Regions from separate parts of the Homo sapiens genome. Here region 1 is linked to region 2. Evidence: fine-mapped expression QTL. A gene starts in region 2. The other region holds a variant in brackets. All regions are shown on one strand. Distances are between the middles of the regions.

What was found. PIP is the estimated chance that this variant, and not a neighbour inherited with it, causes the effect. A credible set is the group of variants that fine-mapping cannot tell apart.
Region 1: its variant is the best candidate, but not a certain one, in a credible set for the expression of MCCC2 in whole blood (TOPMed, PIP 0.72).

The regions. Positions count from the first base shown.
Region 1 is chr5:71,488,370-71,493,747 of GRCh38, reverse strand. BDP1 (BDP1 general transcription factor IIIB subunit) reads right to left here. Exons shown (of 39, transcript NM_018429.3): 10 at 4,066-4,344; 11 at 2,617-2,764. Among named protein-coding and RNA genes, the nearest start is that of BDP1, 35 kb to the right of the region's middle. The variant T/C (reference allele first, on the strand shown) is at 3,362.
Region 2 is chr5:71,584,544-71,589,921 of GRCh38, reverse strand. MCCC2 (methylcrotonyl-CoA carboxylase subunit 2) reads right to left here and starts at 2,582. Exons shown (of 17, transcript NM_022132.5): 1 at 2,368-2,582. The coding sequence starts at 2,496. RefSeq lists an enhancer at 2,137-2,923.

The DNA.
Region 1 (5,378 bases), 96 kb after region 2:
CCTACACCAATACCATGCTGCTTTAGTTACTCTAGCTCGAAAATTAGTCTACTAGCACAGTCCCTCTGCAAAGTTGGTGTTTTTTAAAACTGTCTTTACCATTCTTGAGCCTTTGTTCTTGTGTACATGACAATTTTAGAATCAACTCTTTGTTTTCCAAAACCAACTGGGACTTTAACAGTCATTACAAGGTTGTTTTTCCCCTAAATTAGAAAAAGCTAGGGCCAGACACAGTGGCTCATGCTGAGGTGCGAGGATTGCTTGAGCCCAGGAGTTTGAGACCAGCCTGGAAAACATCTCTACTAAAAAATGTTTTTAAAATTAGCCAGTCATGGTGTCCCATGACTGTAGTCCCAGCTACTCGAGATGCTGAGGTGATAGAATCATTTGAGCCCAAGAGTTCAAGGTTGTGGTGAGCTGTGATCACGCTACTACACTCTAGCCTGAGCAACAGAGTAAGACCCTGTCACAACATTTTTTAATTATTTTAAAAATTAGAAAAAGTCACGAGTACAGTTTTGTGTAGTTTATGAAATTAGGTGTATCTCTGAACTCACACTTTAGATTATCTGTCACCTAGGAACAAACAACTATGAGAAATAGCATATGATTCCACTTATGTGAATATCTAGATTAGACAGAGTCATAGAGACAGAAAGTTGTCTACATCCTTACCGCTCTCAATGAGCCTAATTTGATCTCAAACTAAGCAAGTCTGGTCCTGATTAATACTTGGATGAGAAACAGAAAGCAGATTAGAGATTATCAGTGGTTGCAGGGAGGGGAGAATGAGGAATTACTGCATAATGGGTACAGGTTTTCTGTTTCCAGTGATAAAATAGCTTTAGAAATAGTGCTGATGGCTGCACAACAATGTAAATGTAAATAATGCCACTAAATTGTATGCTTAAAAATAGTAAACAGCTTTAAGTTTGTTTTTGGCAACAGTTTCTTAGATATGACACCAAAAGTATAGGCAACAAAAGCAAAATTAGACAAATGGGACTACATTGAACTAAAAAACTTCTGTACGCCAAAGGAAACAGCAGAGTGAAAAGGCAACCTATGGAATGGGAGAAAATGTGTAAATCATATTTCTGATAAGGTCCTAAAATCCAAACTATATAAATAATTCTCAAAACTCAATAGCAAAAAAGAAAATAACCTAATTAAAAAATTGGGCACAGGACCTGAATAGACATGTCTCCAAAGAAGATATACAAATGGCTAACAGCTATGAAAGATGCTCAACTCAATAATTATCCGGGAAATGCAAATCAAAACAACCATAAGAAACCACCTTCTACCTGTTCAGAAGGACATTATTAATAAAATAAAAGATAACAAGTATTGAAGAAGATGTGAAAAAAACTGGAACCCTGTACATTGTTGGTGGTTATGTAAAATGGTGTACCCGCTATTGGAAACAGTATGGAGGGTCCTCAAAAAATTAAAAGTAGAACTACCATATGATCTAGCAACCCCACTTCTGGGTATTTATCCACAAGAACTGAAATCAGGATCTCAAAGAGATATTTGCACTCCCATGTTCAGTGATGCCAACAGACAAAAACAACCTAAATGTCCATAAAGAAAATGTGGTCTATACATGTACTAGAATATTATTTGCTCATAAAAAAGGAAATCTTCTCATATGCTACACCATGGATGAACCTTGAGGACATTACATTAAGTGAAATAAGCCAGTCACAGAAAGAAAAATACTGCATGAGGCTGGGCGCTGTGACTCACACCTGTAATCCCAGCACTTTGGGAGGCCAGGGCAGGTGGATCACCTGAGCTCAGTTCAAGACCAGCCTGAGCAAAATGGTGAAACCCTGTCTCTACCAAAAATACAAGAAATTATCCAGGTATGGTGGTACATGCCTGTGGTCCCAGCTTCTCAGGAGGCTGAGATGGGAGGATTGCTTGAGCCTGGGAGGTGGAAGTTGCAGTGAGCTGAGATCGTGCCACTGCACTCCAGCCTGCGTGACAGAGACCGACCCCATCTCAAAAACAAAACAAAACAAAACAAAACAAAGAAAGAATCATGATTGCCAAGGGCTGGGAGGCGGAGGAAATAGGAGTTGCTGTTCAATAGGTATAGAGGTGCAGTTATGCAAGGTAAAAAAAAATTCCAGAGATCAGCAATACAACACTGTGCTTATAGTTAACAACACTGTATAGTACACATAAAAAATCTATTGAGGGTAAATCTCATGATTTTATATTACAAAATAAAATTTAAAAACACACACACACACAGCAAGACACATCACATTCAAACTAACGAAAACCAAAAATAGAGAAAATCATTACAGAAAATGATAAACCCATGCAAACGCCAACCAAAAGAAAGCTACAATAGCAAAGTAAACATCAGAAAAAAAGAGCAATACCAGAAGGATAGTACATAATGATAAAGGGAATTTCACCAAGACAAAACAATCCTAGATATGTACACACCTAACAACAGAGCTTCAAAATATATGGAGCAAAAACAAATAGAACTGAAAAAAAGAAACAGGCAAATCCACAGTTACAGATGGAGACTTCAACACTCCTTTCTCAGTAATCAACAGATGTGGATAAAACCAGAAAAGACACAGAAAATACCTTAATGAAAGGATGGGGTCAGTTCTTTTCTCAACTTTTTCAGTGGAGGCAAAACCCACAATGCCATCTATGTTTTGTGTGCAGGAAAGCATCTGCTCCTTACTGCATTCACCTTCCTTTAGCTCAGGCCTTATAGCCTGACATTTATCTACAAATACAAAATGCATGTTATTCTAAAAAATGACAGCAAAAACATCTTTTTTAGAGCACAAAGGAATTTACCTATAACACTCTTTTCCTACAAAACCTTAAGCAACATTCAAGTCCCTATTTGCAAGGCACACATCTTATTTTTAGACCATAATAAAAACTTAACATATATGAGGATCAGCTCAAGCTTCTTGGGCAATTTGTAGCATCTTCCTTTTATCTTAAATTCTAAGTATTTAAAGTGGCTTATTTTATATGTCAAGTAGGGAAACTAAAAGTTGACTTAACTATTCTTTTGCTCCTTCAGAAGTATACTAATTAGTAACACAGTAATAGCTATCATTTATTAAGTACTTACTAAGCGGCAGGAACCCTTAAGTCCATCAGATGCATTATCTCATTTAATACTTGAAACAATCCTATTAAAATATATTAACATTAACCTCATAGAGAACCCCCTGAGTTCAGAGATCTTAAGTAACTTTCCCAATGCAATACTTAAGCAAGTAAAAAAGCTGGAATTTAAAGCAAGGTCTGTTTGATTTCTAAAACCTGGTTGTGAATCATTAAGCTGTTCTGCATTATACGTAATGAC[T/C]CCAATAAGCCAAAAAAGAGCATAATATTGAGATGCCTACAAAGCATACTATGTTAGCTACCAGTACTCTTTTATTAAAATCAGATGGGTAAATCTGAACTACAGAAAACATAAATTTTATAGAAAGGTTGTTCTGGTCTGCTCCTACCTTTTCCTTGGTTATCAGCTTTAAATAATCTACATATGAACTCTTAAGGAAAGGGACCAAGACTCCCCCTCAAACTCTTAGCCCTCATCCCCAAGCAACTCATAAGTGGCAATATGTTTGCATTCAAAGAGTAAAAAAGAAAAAGGGAAGGAATACATATTCCACTAGTTCTTTTATAGGAACTAACCCCTTGTGGGTTCACAGAGGTGCTCTGTAGAGGTACAACATGAAAATCTGTGCTTTATTGACAGACATAGCAACATACTTTTAACTCTATATAGATGTGATTTCTAATCATAGTTAATGGGAATGCACAGGAGGTGATACATCTTAGAAACAAACTTTAGAGAACAATCTCCCCACTTTAATTTGTTTAATTTTTTTACATAAACTTTTTTAATTAAAAATAAACAGCGTTAGCACAGTACCATTAGTACAGAACCAATTAATAAGCATCATTAATTGCTATCTAGACAGAAAATTAAGTTACATACCATATTACTGTACATGTCTTCTCAAGTAATATAGAGGCTTTTTAAATATGTAAGAAACTTACTCTTGTGTTTTTCTCCTTTAGAAGGACCCGCCTGAACAGTGGCATTTTCTAAAAGATTGTTTACTCCCAGTTCATTAGCTCCATCTTGCTTCTTCCTCCTTCTTTTCTTTTGATTTAGGTCTACTTCTAATGCAACCTGCTCTGCATCCTCCCTTGATAAGGTCAGAGACTCTTCTTCAACTGTCTGAGCATCCTTCTGAGATCTTTCCGTGTCTGAAATTCTAGAACTCATAGACTCATCTGGATCATTATTCACTCCTTCACAGGCAACTTTTTTCACTGAAAACAAGAGAAATTACTATAAATATTTAAACAACCTAAAGAAAAATTTGTAAAGGTGGGAAAGAGACTCAAAGATGTCCTCTGTATTATTTATTTGTATGAACAAAAAACCTAAAGACAACCTAAAATGTCTAATGGGAAATGACTAAATAATATATAAAAATCCACGGAGCCAATAATAATAATGAGGTAAGATTATATGTAGTCATGTGAAAAATTTCAAAGCATATTGTTGCATTTAAAAAACCAAGCAGAACAAGATACACATAAAATCTCATTTTTATTAAACAAAAACAGTTACATATAGAGATGCTCCTTGACTTACACTGGGTTTCATCCCAATAAACCCATCATAAGTTGAGTATACTGTAAATTGAAAATGCATTTAATACAGGCTGGGCATGGTGGCTCACACCTGTAATCCCAGCACTTTGGGAGGCTGAGGAGGGTGGATCATCTGAGGTCAGCAGTTCGAGACCAGCCTGGCCAACATGGTGAAACCCCATCTCTACCAAAAATACAGAAATTAGCTGGACATGGTGGCAGGCGCCTGTAATCCCAGCTGCTCGGGAGGCTGAGGCAGGAGAATCACTTGAACACGGGAGGCGGAGGTTGCAGTGAGCCAAGATCGCACCATTGCACTCCAGCCTGGGCAACAAGAGCAAAACTCTGGGCTGGGCATGGTGGCTCACGCCTGTAATCCTAGCACTTTGGGAGGCTGACACAGGCAGATCACTTGAGGTCAGGAGCTCAAGACCAGGCTGGCCAACATGGTGAAACCCCGTCTCTACTAAAAATACAAAAATTAGCTGGGTGTGGTGGTACTTGCCTGTAATCCCAGCTACTTGGGAAGCTGAGGCAGGAGAATCGCTTCAACTGGAGAGGTGGAGGCTGCAGTGAGCTGAGATGGCACCATGGCACTCCAGCCTGGGCAACAAGAGCAAAACTCCGTCTCAAAAAAAAAAAAAAGTTCTGGCTGGGCGTGGTGGCTCACACCTGCAATCCCAGTACTTTGGGAGGCCAAGGTGGGC
Region 2 (5,378 bases):
AGTTAAGACCCTGGACTCAAGAGTTATGAGCCAGACCACCTGGCTTCAAATTCAGGCTCTGTGTTATCTCAGACAAATTTCTTGGACCCTATATACCACAGTTTTCCCATCTATAAAACAGAAATAACAATTGTACCTACTGCACAGGATCATTATGATAAATACATGAGTAAAACCACATAAAGCCTTTAGAAAAATGGTGGGTACACTATAAAATTCCTGCCATTATTATTACTTATTATAGTTGCTTTTATTTGTAATCAGGAAACACAGCTAAACTGGATCATTCATCCCATTCTCCCCCACCCTCATGGACTTGCTTTGTCTAATGTGAGCACACATTAATTTCATCACATGCCAGCAAGGATTTTAAATCCAATTTGTGTTCAGCCTCTTGCTCCTGTGCCTTCGGCCATGAGAAGGGCATGTTTAATTCAGGGCTGCTCTTCAGCCTCAGTCCAGGAATGGGAAGACACATGGAGCAGACCTGAACCTACCCTGCAGTGGAACAGTCACAGCAGCAGCTAACCAAAGGCCACCAACACGAGTGAGAGATTAAGAAACAAAACAAAATCAAGTGAGAGACTAATATTTACTGTTGTGAGTTACTGAGATTTTTTGATTATTTGTTACACAAAGCGCAACCTAGCAAAAGGTGATTCATACAAAACCCATCACCAAAGCCTTCTTTGTATTAATGGCAGTTCCACCTAACTAAATATTCTGCCCAGTTGGAAACTCCAAAGTCATCCATTTTCCCCTTCCACTCAGTTATTAACTCTATAATCTTTGCTCCTCAGGTATTTATGCCCCCCTCCTACATACAACTCTAACTTTGACTCCTTCATCTCAAGACTCAACTCTCCACTGTCACCTAGGTCTAGTCTTTTCCCTATATCAATCCATCCTCCACATTGCCACCACACTGATGATTCTACCATATCCATAGGATCATGCCACTTATCTACTTAAATATTTTAATGGACAACCTGCCAAATGGAATCTAAATGTGGCTTTTGCATGGAAGATCCTCCTCTATCTGGCCCCATAATCAATCAATCCCATCACCAGACACTATTCAATGAATTCCATGTCCTAGACATGGAATTCAAGTCCTCACACCAGATATACACTTTCATAACTCAGTACCTATGTTCTTGTAACTCTCTTGGTTTATACAGTCTTACCTTCCATCCTGCACCCTGAACTTGGCCAGCTCTTACCCAAGATTCATCTCACCCATTACTTCCTATCGGTAGCTTTCTGTAACCACCTTCTCAAGCTTTAGACAACCCTTCTTACACTGTACCACAGTTACCTGCTTTCTTGTCCATCTTCCCTACAAAATTATTAGTTCCATTCCTACGCATCCATGCCAAATATCTAAAATAGTGCCTAGACCACAATAACCACTTAATAATTCTGAATTAAACATTCTGGACTGACAAACAATTGTGTGTTGTTTGCACTATTTAGATGTTATCTGTATAGGCTTAGAAATCGTGGGAACACAGTGAAATTTTCCAGCTCTGATATTTCGCAAGTTTTGAGTTTTTTGGCCTTATGATGCCTCCTAATTCCAAGAAAAGCCACTCAAAGATACTGTGGGATATTTTCTATTAACATAACCAACTTTTTTTTTTTTTTTTTTTTGAGACAGAGTTCGCTCTTGTTGCCAAGGCTGGAGTGCAATGGCACGATCTCAGCTCACTGCAACCTCCGCCTCCCAAGTTCAAGCGATTCCCCTGCCTCAGCCTCCCAGGTAGCTGGGATTACAGGCGCGCGCCACCATGCCCGGCTAATTTTTGTATTCTTAGTAGAGATGGGGTTTCACCACGTTGGCCAGGCTGTTCTCGAACTCCTGATCTCAGGTAATCCACCCGCCAGGGCCTCCCAAAGCGCTGGGATTACAGGCGTGAGCCACTGGGCTCGGCCATCATAATCAACTTTTAAACTCAAATTTCCTAAGCACAGCGCCCCTCGTTGGGCTGCTCTAGGCCAGTGGTTCCCAAAGCTGGCTGCCAAAAGTCCCCTAATGAGTTCACTAACAATATAAACACAGCGACTCCACCTGAGACCCACAAGGTCCAGAGTAGGGCTCAGGCAGCTATTCAGCTAGCTCCCCAGGTGGCAATTCTAAACCAGGCTTTAAGAACCACTGATTTCAAAGACACAAAGTACAGTGCCAGCTCTAAAAGTGAACTAAACTTTCTTGTATCTGTTAGGCTTTTCTTCTTCAAACTTCACGTGCGTCACAGAATCAACTGGGGCTCCGGACAAGAGAGCAGCAGTTGTTGAAGCGTGCCCCTCCTCCACTTGCTTCCTAGCCTGGCACCGGCGGCCAGGCCACCGGGGCGCTCAGCCTACCTGGTAGAGGGCAGAGCCCAAGTCCGGCTGGGTGCCCAGCGAGGCCACCGAGTCCCCGTGATAGGCGCGCGGCCCGGCGGGAGAGGCGCGGGCACACGGCCGCAGGGCTAACCTCAGGACGGCCCACATGGCGGCGGGCACCGAGCGAGAGAGCGGCCCACGCTGGCCTGGAGCCGGTGCTTTCCCCTGCCGCTTCCCTGGCTGGGGCGGAAGCTGAGCTCAGGTCCTTGCAGCCCCAGAGAAGGTTTCTCTGATTCTCAGGCCTGTCCACACACGTGCCTAAGCGCGCCGCCCGCGATTGGTCAAGCCGCGCCACGCCCCCTGACCCAGCCAATAAGGGACAGAGCCTCAGCCCCGCGAGGTCGCGTCTAGTCCCGAGCGCAGGAGAGCAGGTCTCCCCGGCGGATCGACCCTCACGAAGCGGTGCGGCAGTGAGAGAGCTGCGGTTGGGCTTGGATTGGTGTTGTGTTGACACAGCGATAGATAATATCACGATAGTGACTGTACCTAAGGCAGGAGAATAAGTCTGGAAGCAGGGAACCTAAGGCTGTCTCACGCTGACTTCCTAGAGCTAAACTGAAAGGAAAACCCTAACTTTCCATGCCTAAGTAACAAAAGGACCAAAGGCTACTCCCTTTGCAAACCCCCCCACCTTTTCCGCAGGGCAGATAGGAAATTGGCTGTCCCCGACAAATCAGACTTACTGCTGGTGGAGGCTTGCTTTGCCAAGTTTGAACCTTAACTCCAGCCTCTGAATGGTTGCTGTCCACAACCAATCAGACTGATTGGGGGTCCAGTCTTCGTTTGCATAGAAGTATAACTTTGTAATTTCACCCTAGCCTCTGACTGCTTGCTTCTTGCAACCAATCGGGTTTGAGGTGAGCATAAAATGGCCAATAGGAAACTTCTAGTGGGTATTTGGACCCAAGAAGATTCTATATCCGGGCCCTTGAGCTCTGCTCGGTCCGCTCCCACATTGTGGAGTGCACTTTCGTTTTCGGTAAATCCCTGCTTTCGTTCTTTCGTTGCCTTGTTCTTTCTTTGCTTTGCTGGGCGTTTTGTCCAATTCTTTGTTCACAATGCCAAGAACCTGGACAACTTGCAGTCACAACCCCCAGTGACACACCAACAACATGAGTGAATCGCATCTAACACGTGCTTGCGAACAGCACAACAAGCCTGTTGTCCTTTCACTGGAGACCTTAAACATTCTTCTGATTATTTTCGCTATGTAGTTATTTTTATTTTTTACTTTATTTCATTTTTTGAGACAGGGCCTCACTCTGTCGCCCAGGCTGCAATGCAGTGGCACGATCACAGCTCGCTGAATCCTTGACCTCCCACCTCAGCCTTTCCAGTAGCTGAGACTACAGGTTTGTGCCACCAAGCCCGGCTAATTTTTTATTTTTGTAGGGGTTTCACCATGTTGGCTATGCTGGTCTTGAACTCCTGGACTCAAGCGATCTGCCCGCCACAGCCTCCCAAAGTGCTGGGATTACAGACATGAGCCACCACACCAGGCACTATGTAGTGACAGATTGTGGACATCAGCACTGTGGTCTTAAATAAAGGACTCCAAATATACCCATAAAAATTAAAACATTCTATACAAAATGCCTTGAACTTAAGGTTTTTCATTCACATATTTATTGAGCACTTACTACTTCTACTCCATTGGTTGCTTAGTGGGGCAGAGTAAAGGGGGAGGATGGGGTAGAGAAAGGGTGCGTCTACACCTGGAGGTAAACTTAGGTTCAGACTTCAAGGTACTTATAAGAAAATAATACAAATGGCCACATGATTTCTTACTGAACTGTGTAGGACAGACATTAAAGGAACAGAATGCAATTGGGAAAGGGTTGCAGCTGAGCCTTGCAGAAGCGTTGAGAGTGGACTGAGCAATGAACATGGCCAGGCTTTGTGCAAATGGAGGAGAGCATGAGCTAAACTGCAAAGGTATGATTTACACTGTGCTTGCCTCCCATGGTCAACAGAAAAAAAGGCCAGTAAAAACTGACTTTTCATATGTATCAGGGTATCAGAAGAGAGGGTTTGATATTTTAATTGCCACACTTTATTTTTCTCTAAATAGTTCTTCAATGATGCAAAGTACTTAAAATCACCACCCGAAGACAGAAAAGACACAATAGGATATGATTCCTTGCTTTCTTTAAAAGTCATACCTGTTTTGGCCGGGTGCAGTGGCTCATGCCTATCATCCTAGCACTTTGGAAGGCCAAGGCAGGTGGATTATCTGAGGTCAGAAGTTTGAGAGCAGCCTGGCCAACATGGTGGAACCTCATCTCTACTAAGAATACAAAAATTAGCCAGGCATAGTATCACGTGCCTGTAATCCCAGCTACCTGGGAGGCTGAGGCAGGAGAATCGCTGGAACCCGAGAGGCAGAGTCTGCAGTGAGCCGACATGGCACCACTGCACTCCAGCCTGGGTGACAGAGCAAGACTCTGTCTCAAAAAAAAAAAAAAAAAAAGTCATACATGTTTCTTATTTCTTGTAACTTTTGTTACAAGAAGCTCTTTGGAAATGTATAATGTTCCCAGAACAGCTAAGTAGAAAAATGCAAAAGGTGAAGTGCAAATGCACAGAAGGCCAAAAGCAGTCACCTAGCATCTGTTAGTGTCCAGTGTCTCTCTACCCCACTATTGAGATTACAAGGAACATAATCTTTGCCATCTCTGATTTTTTAAAATAATGTTTTATTGAGGCCAGGAACTTGAAACTAGCCTAGGCAACATAGTGAGCCCATGTCTCTGAAAAATAAAAATAGCCATGCACAGTGGCATGTGCTTGTAGTCCTAGCTACTTGGAGGGTGAGGTGAGAGAATCACTTGAGTCCAGGAGTTTGAGGCTGCAGTGGGCCATGATCTTGCCAAGCACTTCAGCCTGAGTGACAAGAGCTAGACCCTGTCTCTAAAAAAAACAATAAAAATAAAATAAAAATAAAGTAAAATAATGTTTTTATTTTATTTATTTATTTATTTATTTTTCTG